5 linked regions of the Homo sapiens genome follow. The protein of the gene in region 1 interacts with the protein of each later gene in a pairwise test. Each region holds a gene or a part of one and is shown in the gene's direction. Other genes may lie near its edges. The genes, in order: FERMT2, SYT7, CAPRIN2, CHL1 and ADISSP.

Evidence for each region.
Region 2: the proteins of FERMT2 (region 1) and SYT7 interact in a two-hybrid assay, tested with the Homo sapiens proteins (one large-scale study listed by IntAct).
Region 3: the proteins of FERMT2 (region 1) and CAPRIN2 interact in a two-hybrid assay, tested with the Homo sapiens proteins (one large-scale study listed by IntAct).
Region 4: the proteins of FERMT2 (region 1) and CHL1 interact in a two-hybrid assay, tested with the Homo sapiens proteins (one large-scale study listed by IntAct).
Region 5: the proteins of FERMT2 (region 1) and ADISSP interact in a two-hybrid assay, tested with the Homo sapiens proteins (one large-scale study listed by IntAct).

The regions. Positions count from the first base shown.
Region 1 is NC_000014.9:52,864,045-52,867,562, reverse strand, and holds part of FERMT2 (fermitin family homolog 2), read left to right. Parts: intron 1-2,709; coding exon 2,710-2,816; intron 2,817-2,940; coding exon 2,941-3,162; intron 3,163-3,518. UniProt on the Homo sapiens protein: Scaffolding protein that enhances integrin activation mediated by TLN1 and/or TLN2, but activates integrins only weakly by itself. Binds to membranes enriched in phosphoinositides.
Region 2 is NC_000011.10:61,571,059-61,574,576, reverse strand, and holds part of SYT7 (synaptotagmin-7), read left to right. Parts: intron 1-3,518. UniProt on the Homo sapiens protein: Ca(2+) sensor involved in Ca(2+)-dependent exocytosis of secretory and synaptic vesicles through Ca(2+) and phospholipid binding to the C2 domain.
Region 3 is NC_000012.12:30,727,436-30,730,953, reverse strand, and holds part of CAPRIN2 (caprin-2), read left to right. Parts: intron 1-671; coding exon 672-715; intron 716-1,628; coding exon 1,629-2,306; intron 2,307-3,518. UniProt on the Homo sapiens protein: Promotes phosphorylation of the Wnt coreceptor LRP6, leading to increased activity of the canonical Wnt signaling pathway.
Region 4 is NC_000003.12:203,261-206,778, forward strand, and holds part of CHL1 (neural cell adhesion molecule L1-like protein isoform 1 precursor), read left to right. Parts: intron 1-3,518. UniProt on the Homo sapiens protein: Extracellular matrix and cell adhesion protein that plays a role in nervous system development and in synaptic plasticity. Both soluble and membranous forms promote neurite outgrowth of cerebellar and hippocampal neurons and suppress neuronal cell death.
Region 5 is NC_000020.11:3,757,746-3,761,263, reverse strand, and holds part of ADISSP (adipose-secreted signaling protein), read left to right. Parts: intron 1-1,077; 5' UTR 1,078-1,163; coding exon 1,164-1,182; coding exon of another isoform or gene 1,183-1,257; intron 1,258-2,585; coding exon 2,586-2,728; intron 2,729-3,518. UniProt on the Homo sapiens protein: Adipocyte-secreted protein (adipokine) that acts as a key regulator for white adipose tissue (WAT) thermogenesis and glucose homeostasis at least in part through activation of protein kinase A (PKA).

The DNA.
Region 1 (3,518 bases):
AAGATGAAGAATAGAACCCTGCAGATCACCCATGTTTAAGAGACAGGGCAGGTTAGAAGAAGGGGACCTTGCAAAGGAAACAAAAAAAAAATGCATAGGAAGACTATGGCAGTGAAGTATGATGAAAGCTAAGATAAAAGTTGTTTCAAAAGGACAGAGTAGTCAACAATGTCCAGTACTGTAGTAAAGTAAGGTAGTTAGGCCAACATAGTATCTAGCCATGTAGTTCATGACCTTGATAAGAACAAGTTAAGTAGACTTCAGTGGTTTATTGAGTATGGAGCCAAAGTACAGTCACTGAGAAGTAAATAAGAAACAAAAATGGCTGGGCACGGTGGTTCATGCTTATAATCCCAACATTTTGGGAGACCAAGGCAGGTGGTGGATTGCTTGAGCCCAGGAGTTTGAGAACAGCCTGGGCAACATGGTGAAACCCTGTCTCTATTTAAAAAAAAAAAAAAAAAGGAGGCAAAGCTTTTTAATGAACTTTATCTATGACAAGGAAGGGGGAAAGAGGTAACAGAAAAGGGAGGTAGGTTGTGGTGTAAGATGGGAGAGACTCAAGGAAATTAAATGCTGGTGGAAATGTGGCAGTAGAAAGAAGGAAATGTAGTGTCTGAGAGGGAGGATCTCAGTGGTGGAGCAGGGTTGCTCGGATGGTAATGAACTCAGCCCACTTGGATAGGAAAGCTGGAGGATGAGGGATGCCTCTTGCACTGCGTGGAAGCAAGGACAGCTAAGTTTATCTTGTACGGTGGCAGGAAATGGATGGACTTAACTTCTGGTGGCTTTCATTTTCTTGGAGACATAAGAGGTGGAGTTGTCCCTTGAGACCAAGTGACATTGTAGGATGTCTGAGAAGATTTGAAATAGGCATTGTTGAAAATGTCTGTATAAGCACAGAAGGATGCAAGCATAAAGGGCCCAGCTGAGGTTGGTATCCATGAATCTGTAGTGAAACCTTTTTTTCTTGCTTCTTCCCATCTTGCAGTGCTAAGCAGCCTGAGTATAGGCAAGGAAAAGTTAGAGGGATTTATTTACCTAGGGTGCAGATTTTGCTAGGAGAATGTATAATGTGAAGACAGTGAGTCTCGGCAGTTGGAGTTGATGTCCAGTGAATGTGGTCCAGGCTGGTTGGGAAGGAGGGAGCTGTTGCTTCCTTCTGTTGCTGTTGGGGAGAAAGTGGAGGGGTTGCAGCATAGGGTTCCTCAAAGAGTTAGGATTAGAGATTGTGACCAGAATTGGCTGTTTGCATTTCATCTTTCAGATGTACACTAATTGGGTAACTGAGGAAGTCCAGTGGTTGCCGTGGAAGTAGGTAGCTGAGGTGGCATGGAATGGGTGTTTGAGATGTGGCCCCTGTAGGCCTCTGAGCCTACACTAGTGCCTGAGTTACCACCCACTTTGTCTCTCCCTGTTTAGTTTTCTTGTTTTTTTAAAAGAGGCCTAATTATTATGGAATTGTGTACTGTAAATCCTCTTGAATTATTAATGATATTTGTGCAAAAGATTGTGTACTTTCAAACAACTGTTTCAACTTTGCACATTAAACAGTTCGTCACACATGTTCTCATCATTCTAAAGCCTGTATAAAAGGAGATATAAAAGAAGAAATTCATATGTAGTAAATATTTTAAAAAGAAAACAAAGGGCAGGGGGGAATCTACAAAATTCATGGTAGGAGTTGCTTCTGGGGAGGAGAATAAAGAGGGCCTCTCCTTTATCTAAAGTGTTCTTTTTATTTAATACTAAAATATTTATGTAGACAGGGAAAATGACAATTTTAACATTTGTTCTTCTGAATATGGAGTGTGTATGATCTTATATTCTGTGCCAAGAGGAATTGAAAAAGCAAGCCCTACTAACAATTTAAAATTTTCTTCGTAGAGCCTACTGCATGATCATATGACATTGTGCTTTGTTCATGTCATTCTTGGACAATTGGAATAAGCTTTAGGAAGCTTTGACAGTGTATTATCTTATTTATCCTTAAATCATCCCTGTGAGGTAGAGTCCAAGGTCAGGAAATGTCGACTTACAGAAGTTAAATGGCCCATAATTATTATTAATAAGTGACAAAGAAAGGTCTGCAACCCAAGTCTCTCTGACTGCAGAGCTCTACTTCACTGTATTTATTATACTGTTACTACTTGTTTATGCCAGCTGTTATGCCATTATCTAACACCTAGTTCAGTAAATCTGCACTCCCTTCTGTAAAGCCTCCTACAAAGTGAAATTCTGAAGAGAGAGTTTCGCTTTTGTTGCCCAGGCTGGAGTGCAACGGTGCGATCTCAGCTCACTGCAACCTCCACCTCACAGGTTCAAGTGATTCTCCTGCCTCAGCCTCCCAAGTAGCTGAGATTACAGGTGTCCACCACCACCCCCGGCTAATTTTTTGTATTTAGTAGAGACATGGTTTCACCATGTTGGTCAGCTGGTCTCAAACTCATGACCTCAGGTGATCCGCCCGCCTCGGCCTCCCAAAGTGCTGAGATTACAGGCGTGAGCTACCACACCTGGCCTGAATACAGTTGTTTTCATTCCAGCTTCCCAAGTATATGTGTATGTTACCTTCTGCAGCAGATGCCTTCATAAAATACTATGGCAAAATCCAACATGTTAAGATGCCACAGAATGAGGGCTGCTTGTATTGACTTGAGATTTCTTAAAAGTAAATTTAGCCATTTTAATAAAAATTTTTTGTTACAGGATGTGAAGTTACCCCAGATGTAAACATTTCAGGCCAAAAATTTAACATTAAACTCCTGATTCCAGTTGCAGAAGGCATGAATGAAATCTGGCTTCGTTGTGACAATGTAAGTTTTCCAGTTAAAAATACACTTCAATTTTCTTAAATGAGTTGACCAGTCATCCTTATATTTTATACTTGAAAGACCCACCTCGTGATACATTGCACACATCAGTATTTCTTTTCTCCAGGAAAAACAGTATGCACACTGGATGGCAGCCTGCAGATTAGCCTCCAAAGGCAAGACCATGGCGGACAGTTCTTACAACTTAGAAGTTCAGAATATTCTTTCCTTTCTGAAGATGCAGCATTTAAACCCAGATCCTCAGTTAATACCAGAGCAGATCACGACTGATATAACTCCTGAATGTTTGGTGTCTCCCCGCTATCTAAAAAAGTATAAGAACAAGCAGGTACTTACTTCATTTTACTTCATCTACTGTGCTGGTTTGTTTTTATAATTTTGTACATAACTTTGTTTTTCCCCTCTTAAACAAAACTTTTTAGTCTTAATTTTGTATCAGATGGTTAGAATATAAAATACAGTTAGAGTATCCCTAATCTGAACCTCTGAAATCCTCCAAAATCTGAAACTTTTTGAGTGCCAACATGACTCTCAAATGCTCATTGGCACATTTTGGATTTCAGATTTGGGATCCTCAACTGGTAAGTATAATGCAGATATTCCAAAATCCAAAAAAATCTGAAACCCAAAATACTTCTGGTCCCAAGAATTTTGGATAATGGATACTCAATCTGTAGAAAATAA
Region 2 (3,518 bases), on another chromosome or scaffold:
CTCCAGGAATGGGGGTTTTGTGCTTTGCAGAGGGACCAGCTTAAGGAATCCCGTCTCAGGTCACCAAACACATCCTGTGTCCTCCCCTGATAATAACAATAGTATGATAATAGCAAGCCTTGTGGAGCACTCAGTATGTGCTGAGCACTTTACATATGTGCCTCCAGGGACAGCTTGCTTGAGCTAGGGCTCTAGTGTCAAACAGCTATTGATTTGAATCCTGGCAGAGACACTTGCTGCTCTGTCTCTGGAGCAGGTCAGCCCACCTCTCTGGCCTTGGGTTTCCTCTTCTGTTAAATGGGTATGATGATGGTTCTTACCTCCCAGGCGGTTGGAAGATGAGGTGAGATAAGGCAGAAAAAGTATTTAGCAGAGAGCCAGCCCATAGTAAACACTCAGCCAGCGGTAGCTGTTCTCAACATTGTCCTGTACCAAGCAATTGATGTGTGGGATGAGGGTTCTGGATCCTCCAAGGAGAACATGCCTGCTACCTCCATGGTGGAGGAGTTGGGGAGGGCTTCATGGAGGCAGTGTCAGTTAGGTTACCATCAGAATAGCAGAGACATGTTGTGTGCTCACTATGTGCCAGGTGCTGTTCTAAGCACATAACATGCGTTAGCGCCTCCATCCTCAGAACCACCTTGGGAAGTGCGAACTTGCAGTTAGAAGTAGGTCTGGGATTCCAGCCACGCTGCCAGACCTAAGGGTGTGAGCTTCAGATACAGGGCCTTGAGTCCTGAAGGAAGAATAAGAGCTTTGCCATGTGAGCGAGCAGAGGTGAGGCAGTTGGTGAGGTGGGGACAGCACATGCAGTGGCTCAGAGGTTCGAGGGATCTTGGCCGGTTGAGGCAGCAGGGAGTGCTTGAGCATGGCCAGAAGGGAGACCTTTGGGGCACAGTAGCAGGAAGTGAGGCTTGGGAAGGTAGGTTGGGCCAGATTATGAAGGAGTTGGCATTTTGAAATAGGAAAACTGAAATTCTTTTAAAAAGTAAGGCATGGAGTGCCATGGATGGCTTTTGAGCAGATCTCTATAAAGAACTTTGACAGCACGGTAGTGTGGAGGGTGGGAAGTCAGGAGGCAGGTGGGTAGATGGAGCTAGAATCTCAGCCATTAACATATCTGTCCCTACCTCTGCCAGGAGATCTGCAGTGTCCAGCCAGCCTGGACCCCTGCCCTTGGAAAGCTTGCAGCAGATTATAGGCAGTAAGGGGGTAGCCGGATGCAGGTGGGCATGAATGAACACCCTGAGGGGGCTTCCCAGGTGCCTGGGGTATCAGAGAAAGCCTCCCTAGTGAGGGATATAGAGCCAAGATGGGCAGGCCCAGGGCCCTGTGGACACAGTTAGTCCTTTTGAGGATTTGTTCTGTACCCACATAACCCCCCCAGGCATCAGGGCCAGGCCCAGGAGGGGCCACACAGCTCCTGCTCCAGCTGCCAGGCCTGAGCTCCAGAGCCCCACCAAAGCCAACCTGTCTCCATGGCAACTAGACGGGCCACCCCCCCTCTCCATGCCCACGGCCACTGGCACAGGGACCCATTCACAGCGGGGCCTGGTTATGTCTTCCCACTTCCCTTGGGGGTCATCCCAAGGCAAACGCCCTCACACTGAGGCGCTGGCAGCACACATGCATGTTGGCATTTGGGTATGTATGCACACATGATGTGTATGTGTGTGTGTCCTGCAGCAGGAAGCAGGGAGGTGGGGACCATCTGTGTTGACTACCCACCTTAGTTGGAAATTTGTTACCCCTGAGTGGGGGTCAGATGGGTGCCAAGGGCCCTGACGCCAGGATGAACTGTGGGCTCCTGTCTTGGAGATTGCAGTGAGAAAGCCAGCCCAGAGAAGGGGCAGCTAGGAGAAATGGAAGGTCAGGGAAAGCTGCAAGGGAGAGGCTCCCAGTGGTGCCTGGTGGGTCCACAGACCACCTTGTTCTTTCCATTCATCATGTTATGTCATCTTCACAGCAGTCTTGCAAGGGAGATATCCAATTCACTGCAGTGCAAATGAGGAAACGGAGACTCAGAGAGGTTGAGTGTCTTGCCCGGGTCACTCAGTAGAGCAGGAATAAGATTGCAAGTCGGCCTCACTCCAAAGCCTGGGTCTTAACCACTGGGCTACGTTGCCTGGTGCCTCCTTATCCTACTAGGCTCTAAGCCAGCCCGTCTCTCAGCCCGTCTCTCAGAAGGGAGCACTACGAGTTGGTACTGGCTGCAGAGCTGGACTCAAAGGGTGTCCCAGTGCCTCTTCTAATTCTAGGGTATCCCCTAAAGCCTTTGTTCTTCCTGGAGTGGAGGGGAGTCTCCTTCCTACCCTGTCTCCATTCTCTCTACTGGCAAGGTGGAGGGATCCTCTCACTCATGGGGGAGGCTCTCAGGAGAAGGGGAGGAACCCCTCTCTCCCTCCTTGGCACCTGCCAGCCCTGGAGGAGCCTGATGAATTGTCTGTGTGCCCCCCCCCCAACCTCATTCCTCCCTCTCCAGCCCCCGCCTGGTTGGGGAGGTGCGAAGGGAGTGATTTCACAGCCTGTCAGCTGAGGCCTAAAAATACCCAGAACTCTAAGATGCTTGGGCAGGGGGAGGAGAGAGCAGGGACCGGGGATAGGGTGGTGAAGGGTGCAATGGTAACTTGGTCAGAGGAGCCCAGGTGGCAACACAGTCCTGCTCAGGAATGATGGGAGACCCTCTGTCCCCAGGGTCCCCATCTGACCCCATACCTGGCAATGACAGAGAGGGCCAGTGTCTCGAGGGTCTTGAGAGCTCAGCTCTGGCACTCAGACCTAAGGGAGGGCTTAGTCTCAGATAGGAGCCATTGTGGACCCCAGGCCCCCTGGAGCCTCCAGTTGATGCCTTTCTCTCCCTCTCCACCCCCAGGTTGGCTGGCATCTTTGGGCCGTGGGAGCCAGGCTGTGCCTGAGTCTGCTTCCTTCCTGGAGAAGGTGCCCGCTTCTGCTAGGGGAGAGGCGTGAGGAAGGCAGTGTGGATGGGGGTGCCGGCAGGTGCGGGATGTGACGTGCCAGCCACCCAGGCACTAGAAGGAAGCAGAGGAGAAGGGGTGTGGTGGCCCACGTCACTGCCACATGGCTGTGTGCTGCAGCATGGCACATGGCCCCCACAAGTCAACCACTGCTCAGAGACGGGAACACGTGTATATGTGTGTGTGTGCATGGACCTGCTAGAGTCAGCTTGTTCTGGTGCTGGGATGCTTGTGGACATATGTGACCCAGCCTGGCTACTTCAGGTAGAAATTGGGTGGAGGCACAGGAGTGGGTGTGGGAGCATGAGCTAACACACCTCACTTCATGCAGATGCATGACTGTGTGTGTGCTTCCCATGTGGAAACACGATGGTAGGTGTGTCTGTGCAGAGGCACATGGGCACACATCGCTGGGGCGCCAAGCAGGGGCTGAGAGGGTTCTTAGGGAAAGAATGCAGAGTGGTGGCCAGGGCACAGGGGCTCTGGATCAAAAGTAATGAGGCTCAAATCCCAGATGTGCCTTGTGCTGACTTGCTTTGTGGC
Region 3 (3,518 bases), on another chromosome or scaffold:
ATTCAGGGGAAAAAAGTGCTAAAGTCAGTAAAGAAAATATACTTTTAAAATTATCATTTGCCTGGGGAAGAAATACTTTGAGCAAGTGGCACTTCTGCTTTTGTTTACCAAAGTTGGATTTATTAAAGAAATACCTCTTCTCAGGAGGTAGTCCAGGCAGGGTTCTGGTAGCCATAAGCAAGAGCGAAACCATTTTCCATGTTTATTTCCCCTTAGTTCTTAATACTAAGTGCAGTGCTTAAGTATCTCCACTCTCTTATCCCCTCCTAACCTTAAACTGGCTTGTAAGAGGTTTTTAAGGGCTCTATTTCAAGCTGAGATGACCAATTTTTACCCCATGGGACATGAGCTATAATGCTAACTTGAAAAAAAGCTGTGTTTTAGGGTAAGAAGAAATAGTGTTATTTTCAATCAGATATCAGTTTTAAACTGAAACTTGACTTTCGTAAAGTGTCTTACATAAGGAGAGCTACTAGTTTGAACTAGCCTCAGACCACATGCTTTGGACTAACAAGGAATATAATTCCTCTTGCCATCAATATACTTGATTATATTACCCTTTTTCTGTTACGAGTCTTCTGAAATATGTTGCTAGAATGAATTATAGTTGTAATCTGTCTAAAAACTTACAGTTCACCTAGTATTTATTCAGATTCTTTTTATCATCCCAGAGTCTCTAATGGAATTTGCCCAGCCAGAGATACAACCACAAGAGGTAAGATACTGAAAGACAATTTGCTGATGTTGATTTTTCAGCCTTTTGCATAGGGTTATGGTTGGAAGCTAAGGCTCTGGAGCCAGACTGCCTGAGCTTGAACCCTGGTTCTGCAGTTTACTAGCTTAGGGACTTTGGGCAAGAAATCTGGTCCAGCTGTGTCTGTTATCCTCATATGTAAAATAGGGATAACGTTAATGACTACTTCATGGGGTTATTGTGAGGATTAAAGAGGTTGATCTAAATTCTAAATTACTTAGAATTTGGTCTGGCACACGAACTGCCCAAATGATAGCTATTTTTGGCTCCTGTGTTAGAGGAACTTTAAGATGCGCAGGACTTTGCTCTCTCCAGAATTTACTCACATTGGTAGCAGAAAAGGGTATTTGTTCTCTTTCTGAAGTGACATTGAAATTCATGGGAAGCTGAAAAGAATGGGAGATTCAAAAACAGTGTCATTGATGTATAAGGGAAATAAAGAAAACACTGGTAACTTAGGAAATGTCACGTTTAAGGTTACATAATTTAACTTTGAAGTTGAACTATCTTCTGCCTTTTAATGTTTGAGGGAGTCAACTGGGGAGAATGGTCCTAAGGCTGGCAAAGGCGGAACAGCCTTGGTAGAAGAATCCGAATCAAGCAATTCTTGCCAGTCTTAGGCAAGTCCAACAGAAGTTGCTACTTTTGATGTATCGAAGTCTGTATTTCTGTTAATTGAGGAAAAAGGAATGGACAGAAAAGTAGGAAAGTAGGAAAGAGAAGTAGGAAAGTCTTTTCAAGTAGAATAAGGACAGAAATTTAATATTAGTGCAACAACTTAGATCAGAGGACATAGCAATACTAATAGAGTTGAATATTCCCTCCAAGGTCTTCTATGAATTTTGTGACTTAAGTGCATTGTTTCTCTATCTAGTTTCTTAACAGACGCTATATGACAGAAGTAGATTATTCAAACAAACAAGGCGAAGAGCAACCTTGGGAAGCAGATTATGCTAGAAAACCAAATCTCCCAAAACGTTGGGATATGCTTACTGAACCAGATGGTCAAGAGAAGAAACAGGAGTCCTTTAAGTCCTGGGAGGCTTCTGGTAAGCACCAGGAGGTATCCAAGCCTGCAGTTTCCTTAGAACAGAGGAAACAAGACACCTCAAAACTCAGGTCTACTCTGCCGGAAGAGCAGAAGAAGCAGGAGATCTCCAAATCCAAGCCATCTCCTAGCCAGTGGAAGCAAGATACACCTAAATCCAAAGCAGGGTATGTTCAAGAGGAACAAAAGAAACAGGAGACACCAAAGCTGTGGCCAGTTCAGCTGCAGAAAGAACAAGATCCAAAGAAGCAAACTCCAAAGTCTTGGACACCTTCCATGCAGAGCGAACAGAACACCACCAAGTCATGGACCACTCCCATGTGTGAAGAACAGGATTCAAAACAGCCAGAGACTCCAAAATCCTGGGAAAACAATGTTGAGAGTCAAAAACACTCTTTAACATCACAGTCACAGATTTCTCCAAAGTCCTGGGGAGTAGCTACAGCAAGCCTCATACCAAATGACCAGCTGCTGCCCAGGAAGTTGAACACAGAACCCAAAGATGTGAGTTGATCTGTATCATTCTGCTTCTGTAAGTGTAGGCATAAATAAGGTGTCGTGGTAATGACTTTTTAGTTCTCTTTTTTTTTTTTTTTTGAGATGGAGAAACACTCTGTTACCCAGGCTGGAGTGCAGTGGCACTATCTCTGCTCACTGTAACCTCCGCCTCCTGGATTCAAGCGATTCTCTTGCCTCAGCCTCCTGAGTAGCTGGGACTACAGGCGCATGCCACCACACCTGGCTAATTTTTTTGTATTTTTAGTAGAGACGGGGTTTCACTGTGTTAGCCAGGATGGCCTGGATCTCCTGATCTCGTGATCCAACCGCCTCGGCCTCCCAAAGTGCTGAGATTACAGGCGTGAGCCATTGTGCCCGGCCTTAGTTCTCTTCAAAGCCCATGTGAAGTTAATGTATAAAATATTTCACCCTCTTTAGTGGGTAGATTTATTGTTTTCCCTTGAAAACTGGGAGTTAATCTAGTCTGTCTTTAAGTCTAATCTGAGATGAAATTTCTGCAATTATAAAATGTTGTTTTAATGCCAAATTTTAACAATATAACATGATATGAAAATAGTAGATAGTTTAGATAAGACCATAATGACATAATGTGAACAAGTGAGTAATGCAAATGCTTGTCACAGGATGGGAGATACTGTATTTCATTTGTTGTCATTTACCTGCTATACGAATAACTTTTTCTGACAAGTTATATTTTTCTATATTCTCTTGCTTCTCTTCTACTCATTTATGGTCACTCAGTTTAGCCCAGGTCTTTATGAAGAAGGTTTATGGTGGTTGCAGATATTTCAGTATTGGGGGAAGGATTTGAATTAGTTCTCTATTTCCATTTCAAAATGAGAATTTTTCCAAAGATAGGAAAACTGTTGGCATTAAATATTTTGTAGTTAGGTTTTGGAGAACAAGATTCAGTTAAAACATAAGGCCACATTCTTTTAAGGATAAATAACCTGTTTCAGGTAGATAACACTTACATTGAATAATTCTTGGGTACAGTGCTATGTTAGGGTTGCCTTTTATTAAATTGTAAATTACTTATTTACTACTATTTATAATGCAAACTTGTTACCACCTCATTTGCTGAGATATGTGAACTTGTGCTTCCAGTGTTCTCTATCTCTATGGAGTAGTCTTCCTTGCACATCTGTGCCATTTTAGCTAAAGGCTTTCTGATAAACCATTGGACCTCTAATATAA
Region 4 (3,518 bases), on another chromosome or scaffold:
AGACAAATTTCAGCCAACATTTAAATACTGGAGATTTCATGTAAAATTCATATTTCTGGCTTATCTTAAAAGGATTGATGTTCTCACAGTATTGGACCTGAATGCCCAGGTGGCAGAATGCCACAGGTTAGAACCCAGTGGTTTGTCCCCTTGATGTTCTTGAAAGACATATCTTCGCTGGGTAAAACATGGCTTCCTCTCACCTTCACTTTGTTCCTTTCTTTTATATAGATCCTACTCCAAAGAGGTAATTAAGGGACCTTAAAGACGGGCCCACATCTCTTTGGATGGGATTAGGGGAAGCCCACAAGGGCTGCTGAAGCACATCTGGAGCTGTTACTGCCCCTTGTCCTGAAGGGATAATGGGAAGGTGAAGTTCCTGGAAGGAGGTGGGAGCAGTAGCTCTGGAAGAGGGCTGTCACGTGGGACCTATGGCTTTTGGTAGAGGAACATAACTACTGTCAAATCACAAGACAGTGCTCTGCTTCTACCCCAAGATTTCCAGTTGCTTCTTCAGCAAGGCAGTAAGACGGCAAGGGAGCCTATTGTAGTGGTTTGTGGAGGTCAGTTCTCCCAGAGCAGAGCAGGATGGAGGAAGGCAGAAAAGGGATCTGAATCTGGGAAGTACGTGAGGAATACCTAGCACATCTTGAAGGCTTTACATTTGTGGAACGTGAGTAGTGGGGAAGGGGAAAGCTAGAATTGACAAAAACAGTACAAAATAGGGAATCATTAAGTTTGTATTCAGGAGAATCTTCACCACTTTTTCTTTGTCATTCCTTTCTTCTTTCTTTCATTGCCCGAAGTGGGCATGCTCATATTCAGTGGTGTGTTTCAGTTGGGACTCTTAAACTTCAAAACAAATTTGTCCATTTCATTGCATTATCTATGCTTTCTAAGATGAGAGCTGACATAGCAGAGAGAATAATGTAAAAGATGTATTCCAGCTTCTATGGTAATGGTTGGCATTTTTAGCAGAGGTTCCTCCCTAACAAAAGCTTTTGCTGTAAGTGGTGATTCTCCTGGGAGGGATTGTAGTTATGATGCCTGGGAAAGCGGAGATACACTCAAATGTCAGTCTGGCAGCTGAAACTCATGTAACCTGGATGCCTGGATCTTTGGAGGAAGTATCCTTCTTCTTTGTTATAGTTGTATCAGAACAAGGACGATGAAGGAATAGACCAGAATGCACTGGTTGCATCTTAATGTGAGGAATTTTTATTTCCAGGGACTAAGAGATGTATTTCCCAGAGTAATAGAATGTAAGTGGATAAAAGGAATGTGGGGATTTTGATGATCTGTTGCGGTTAGAGTTGTTGGAAGTTCGGTTTTTTATTGCATTGAAAACCTTGCTAAAAACTGTAAAGTGACAGAATATTAGCTTATTATGGGATGCCTTACATATTGGTTATGTTCAAAAGAAATAACACGTCTCATGTGCAAAAGGTTCAGGGGGAAGATAAATACTGACCTTTTCCAAGACTGATACTGGATGCTGCATTTCCATCCTTTCAGAAGATTGCCTCTGAAGATTTCTATTTTAAAAAAAAATCATAATGTCTTGCATTATTTGTGTGCTTTATGCTTTTTAGAAAATTTTTCCATGTCATCTCATCTGACTTTTACAATAACATAGTGAACAAAAAGAAACAGGTTGTTAGCCCATTTTATAGATGAAAAAAACTAATGCAAGGTCAAGTAGTTAGCTTTACCACTATTCCACCACACTGCCTACAGTAGTGAAAATTAGAATTAAATCATCTTAGATATCCTAATTTGTAACCCAGTTCATAGCCCACTCTATTGCTTTCAGGTTTTCTTTTTCCTTTTTCTTTCTTTCTTTCTTTTTTTTTTTTTTTGGAGATAGGGTCTGGCTCTGTTGCCCAGGCTGGAGCGCTGGAGTACAGTGGTATGGTCATCGCTCACTGCAACCTCGAACTCCTGGGCTCAAGTTATTCTCTCACCTCAGCCTCCCAAAGTGCTGGGACTACAGACGGGCACCATCATGTCTGGCTAATTTTTAAAATCTTTTTTGTAAAGGTGAGGTTTCACTATGTTGTCCAGGCTGGTTTCAAACTCCTGGCCTTAGGTGATTCTCCCACCTGCCCCTCTCAAAGTACTGGGATTACAGGCATGAGCCACCTTACACAGCCCAGATTTCCTTTTTTGGAAGAAAAGAGCAACATTGTATAACTGATAGTGAATTGTTTTTTAAGGAAATCTAGAGTCACCGTATAAACTGAGAGCTGTCTAGGGGAAAAATTGAAAATGTTACCAGTTATATTTTGAGAGTTGAACGTAGTCCTGGCCAAAGATAGGGAGATAGACTTTTCCAAAGCATCCTGAATTCTATAATACATGTTCTTATGTTTGTGTGTGTCTGTGTGTGTGTGTGTGTGCGCGCGCACGTGTATGTGTGGGTCCTATGAGGCATTGTGACCAGTCATTATAAAAAGCTTTTATTGATCGCCACTTTGTGCTAGAGACAGGAATGAAACTGTGCCAGGCAGATACTTAAATAGCCACCATTGATCATTTATCAAGTGTTTATTATGTGTTTTGCAATCTCCACATCAGTGATTTGAGGAAAGTACTATTATAACACCCAATGTAAGCTGGGCGATGCAGACACAGAAGGGTCCTTGTCCAATGTCACACAATATGTCTTGCAGTACCAGAGTCAGAATTCAAACTCAGAAGTGTCTGATTTCCAGCCCCAGCAGTGCCCCCTCGATTAGCAGGATTCTCCAGCTATGGTCTTCACTATGGACTAACACTCTTTCCTGTTGTCCATCCAAACTTACCTGTTCTGTGTCCCATTATCCATTTGTGGAAAAGTAGACATAAAGGAATCCTACTGAGGTATTAGATGATAATGCATACCTATTCCAGGAATGGTGGCATTAAATATGAGGTTTTAAAACCTGCCAGAGGTGGTGGTGCAAGCCTGTAATCCCAGCACTTTGGGAGGCTGAGACGGGTGGATCACTTGAGGTCAGGAGTTTGAGGCCAGCCTGGCCAACATGGTGAAACTTCGTCTCTACTAAAAATACAAAAATTAGCTGGGCATGATGGCATGCCTGTAATCCCAGCTACTCAGGAGGCTGAGGCAGGAGAATCACTTGAACCCAGGAGGCGGAGGTTGCAGTGAGCCTAGATCGCACCACTGCACTCCAGCCTGGGTGACAGAGCGAGACTGTCTTAAAAAAAAATCTTAATGCAACTTTGGGAGGCTGAGGCTGGAGGATCACTTGAGGCCAGGAGTTCAAGACCAGCAACACAGCAAGACTCCATGTCTACAAAAAATATATAAATAAATAAAAATAAAAATTAGCCAGGTGTGGTCGGGCATGCCTATAGCCCCAGCTACTTGGGAGGCTGAGGTGGGAGGATCATTTGAGCCCAGGAGTTGGAGGTTACAGGGAGGAGACATTTGTGTTCTCTCCAAAATCAAGTCATATAAGCGTCTAATGGTCTGACTCTTCCTGTACCAGACCCTGGGCATCATTATATGTACA
Region 5 (3,518 bases), on another chromosome or scaffold:
TCTGGTTTAGCATCCACTGGTTCTTGTTGCCTCCAGCATTTGTTCCTTTAGGGGTTGCAGAATGACTTAGCATTTGGTCATTTCTTTGTTATTTATTAGCAAGAATTCTTTCCGAAAGAAGAGCTTTCCATCAACCACCAGGGCAATTTGGTTACAAGAAAGGCCAAGAGACAGGCTGAATTCTTCCTCTTTAATCCTCAGCTTTCAGAGTAAAGAGGGCACTGCTACCGTCAGTGGTGACAAATGAGGGCTTTTGAGGGCTTGGGTTTGTTTGTTTTGCTTTCTCTCTTCTTTTCTAATAATCTCTGTGAATGCACTGCTTTTATGTGTTCCATCTGTTTCCATCAGTTGCACTCATTATTCTTTTTGATGCTCAGATGGTCCCAGCTCGGCCCATTGGAGGCTTCCTGGGGCGCCTCTCACTGCCCCTGTGCTGAGGCTGCCGTTGGGGAGCTGAGGCGGAGGCAGGCCTGAGACTCAGGGCAGGGTCTGAATGGGGTTCAGGTGGGGGCACACCCCCTCCACAGGCATCTGTTTTGCATATGGCCCTGACCGATCACCAGGAGGGAAAGCTCTAAGGGCACGCTTACTTTATGTGGTCCCCTGTTCTTGCCCACCATCGAGCACCCTGTTGCCTCTGACCGCACCCAGCTGCATTGCTTGTGTGACCTGAATAAGGTAGCTCCAGGCCCAGCCTTTGGGGTCAGCAGCACCAGAACTGGTCCCTGGAAAATACCAATAAAGTCCTCCTTTCCAGGCTGCCCCTCCTGCCAGTCTCTGGGGGTGCTGGGGATAGGAGTCCTATGCTGTTGCTTTGGCACCTAGAAGCTGCAGCTCAGCACATGCTGGCAGGACCCTGAGTCACTGGGGTATCAGGAAGGGGTGAGGGCTCTTGGTGAATGTGGGCAGTCGGTAGAGGGTGGGCAGAAGCCCCCGTGCTAGAGAGTACAGGCACCACTTGGGCTGCTGAGAGCGGTAGGGGTTTGAGTCCTTCCTAAAGGGAGCTCCTCTGGTGTCCCTGAGCCATGGGTCCATGAGTGGCCCTGACCCCTGCCCTCCCCACTCCCTATCCTTCAGGCTCCCGCTGGTGTCCCTGGAGCATGGGAGGCTGCTGAGCGTGAGTGGCGGTGTCTGGCAGGAGCTGCGTGGCAGGGAGGGCGTCCATGGCTGCAGCCAACAAGGGTAAGTGCCTTCCTGGCGTGGTAGGACTTGCACAAGCTCTTCCGGTGGGCCCTGGTAGGAGGGCCATTGCTGCAGGTAGGGCCCGCACCACCTGTGTGTGTGTGTGTGCATGTGTGAGTGCGTGTGTGCTGGTGTGCGAATGTGATTGGGACTATGTCAGTGTTTGTGCCAGGTTCTGGGGCTCACGCAAGCCCTAGCAGGACCCCTGCAGAGCCCTGCTGACTCCTTAGGCTGGTCTGTGGAGGTGTGTGCTCTTGTGTCCCTGCCGTTCCACTGTGGGGGTTGGGGGAGCCGAGGGGCTTATGGTGAGCACTGAGACTGGTGATGTGGGAGGGCCACAGCAGGCTGTGGAAGGGAGTTTGGGTTTCTTTCAGAGTCCAGAAGGGATAAGGGAGGGTTTTAGGCCAGGGTGATCTGGTGAGATTTGAGGGTTCTGTGGGGCTCACCAGGGATTGTGGATGTGCCAGGCTGGTCCCCTGGGCCTCCGAGTATCCAAGAGGCCGGCTCAAAGCTGGATCAGGTCCTCCCGCCAAGAGGACCCTGGGCAGGGCTCTTGGTGGGAGGGCCTAGGGGCCAGGGGTCAGAGAGGACTAGGGCCGTGCTCTCGGCCTCTACAGCCTGAGCATTCATCCAGTCCAGGCCTTCAGCTCGGCTCCCGCCTACCCTGCCTGTCTCATCCGTCTGCCCTTTCTGGCCTTGGAGAACCCGACCCAGCTCAGAGACAGCTGAGGGCCTTGATGGTGGGCTAGACAGAGGAAGGAAGGGGGTCTTGAGGTGGGTCTGGAAGCTTCCTTGGATTCTCTCTTCTTGCTGCCAGGGGCCAGTGAGGTTTACTGGCAGCTGCAGCCTCGCCCAGGTGGCCTGAGTGTGTTTTTTGATCCCCCCTGTTTCTGCCACCCCAGGCAGATCCCCCAGAGCCTGTTCCTGTCCCTGCCCTTTCAGGTTTGGGTCATGAGGATGGGCAGGCAGGGGCCTCATGCACTGACACAGCTTAGGGGTAGGCCCCAGGGATGGGGAGCTTTGCACTGTGAAGGAGAGCACTGGGCAGGGTATCCAGAGGACTGGGCTGAGTCCCACGCTGCCCTGGCTTGGTGGGAGTCTGGAAGACTGTCCCTTCCTGGCTCTGGCACCAGCCCCACCCCCTCCAAGCAAGGGTCATATTAGCCAGTCCCTGAGTCCCCCCACGCTCACTCTCAGGGGATGGATTTTTGTGGGAGGGGCAGGTCGGGGCCGGCGGGGAGGCCTCAAGCCTCATGATCCTAGTGTCCATCTAGCCCTGAAAAGAGCCCAGCCAGTGGGAGCTGGATGATGTCAAGGGCAGTCTTGGGGGTGACGAGGGGACAAGGGGGAGGAGTTTCCTGGGGACAGGGAAAGCCCTCAGAGCCCTCTCCCACTCTTCCTAGGCAACAAGCCCAGAGTCCGGAGTATCCGCTTTGCGGCAGGCCACGATGCAGAAGGATCCCACAGCCACGTCCACTTTGATGAGAAGCTGCATGACTCGGTGGTCATGGTCACCCAGGAGAGTGACAGCAGCTTTCTGGTCAAGGTACATGCACACCTACCCCATCAGCAGCTTCTTCCCCTCCCCGGCTCTGCCTGGCTTCTGGGTGCCTATCCCCGTTCCTCTCAGCCGGGCTTATAGGCATGTCTGTGCCTTTCCCTGTGCCTTGGTTGCCCCATCTGTCAGATGGGAGGCAGTGAGATTTCAATGAGATGAGAGCATTTAGAATGTCATCCAGATCAAGATGAGCAGAGCCACTGCTGTCATCTGCTTCACCCAGACAATAGCAATGGAAGGCAGTGTCGTGGCTGTGGTGCCAGTGGCCTGAGTTCAGGTCTAGGCCAGCCATTCTGGCTCTGTGACCTTGGGAAGGTCACCTGAGTTTCTTTTCTCTCAAGTGGAGACAATCACATCCCCTAGAGTTGGTGTGAGAATGGAAGAATGTATGTATGTGATACAGGTGTGAAGCTAACTATGGCAATAACAAGGTGCAACTTTTTTTTTAACCCTTCTTTGCCAAATCTCTGGCTCAGTTAGGCTCTTTGAAGTAGTATTATCACCCCCTGTTTTCTGCTTGGTGGAGCTGGATTGGGGAAAATGGAGACTGAGGCCTTCAGGTTGGTCAATAAATCAGGGGTCCAGAGTTGAACAGGAGTGCCCTTGGGTCGGGGGAGGTCTGGCCCATTGAGATGGCCCTGAGTGGGGGGTCTGCTGCGCTGCTCAAAAGGGGCCCAGGTTTAGCCTGGCCAATGGGTCGAAACCCGTCTCTACTAAAAATACAAAAGTTAGCTGAGCGTGGTGGCGCACGCCTGTAGTCCCAGCTACTTGGGAGGCT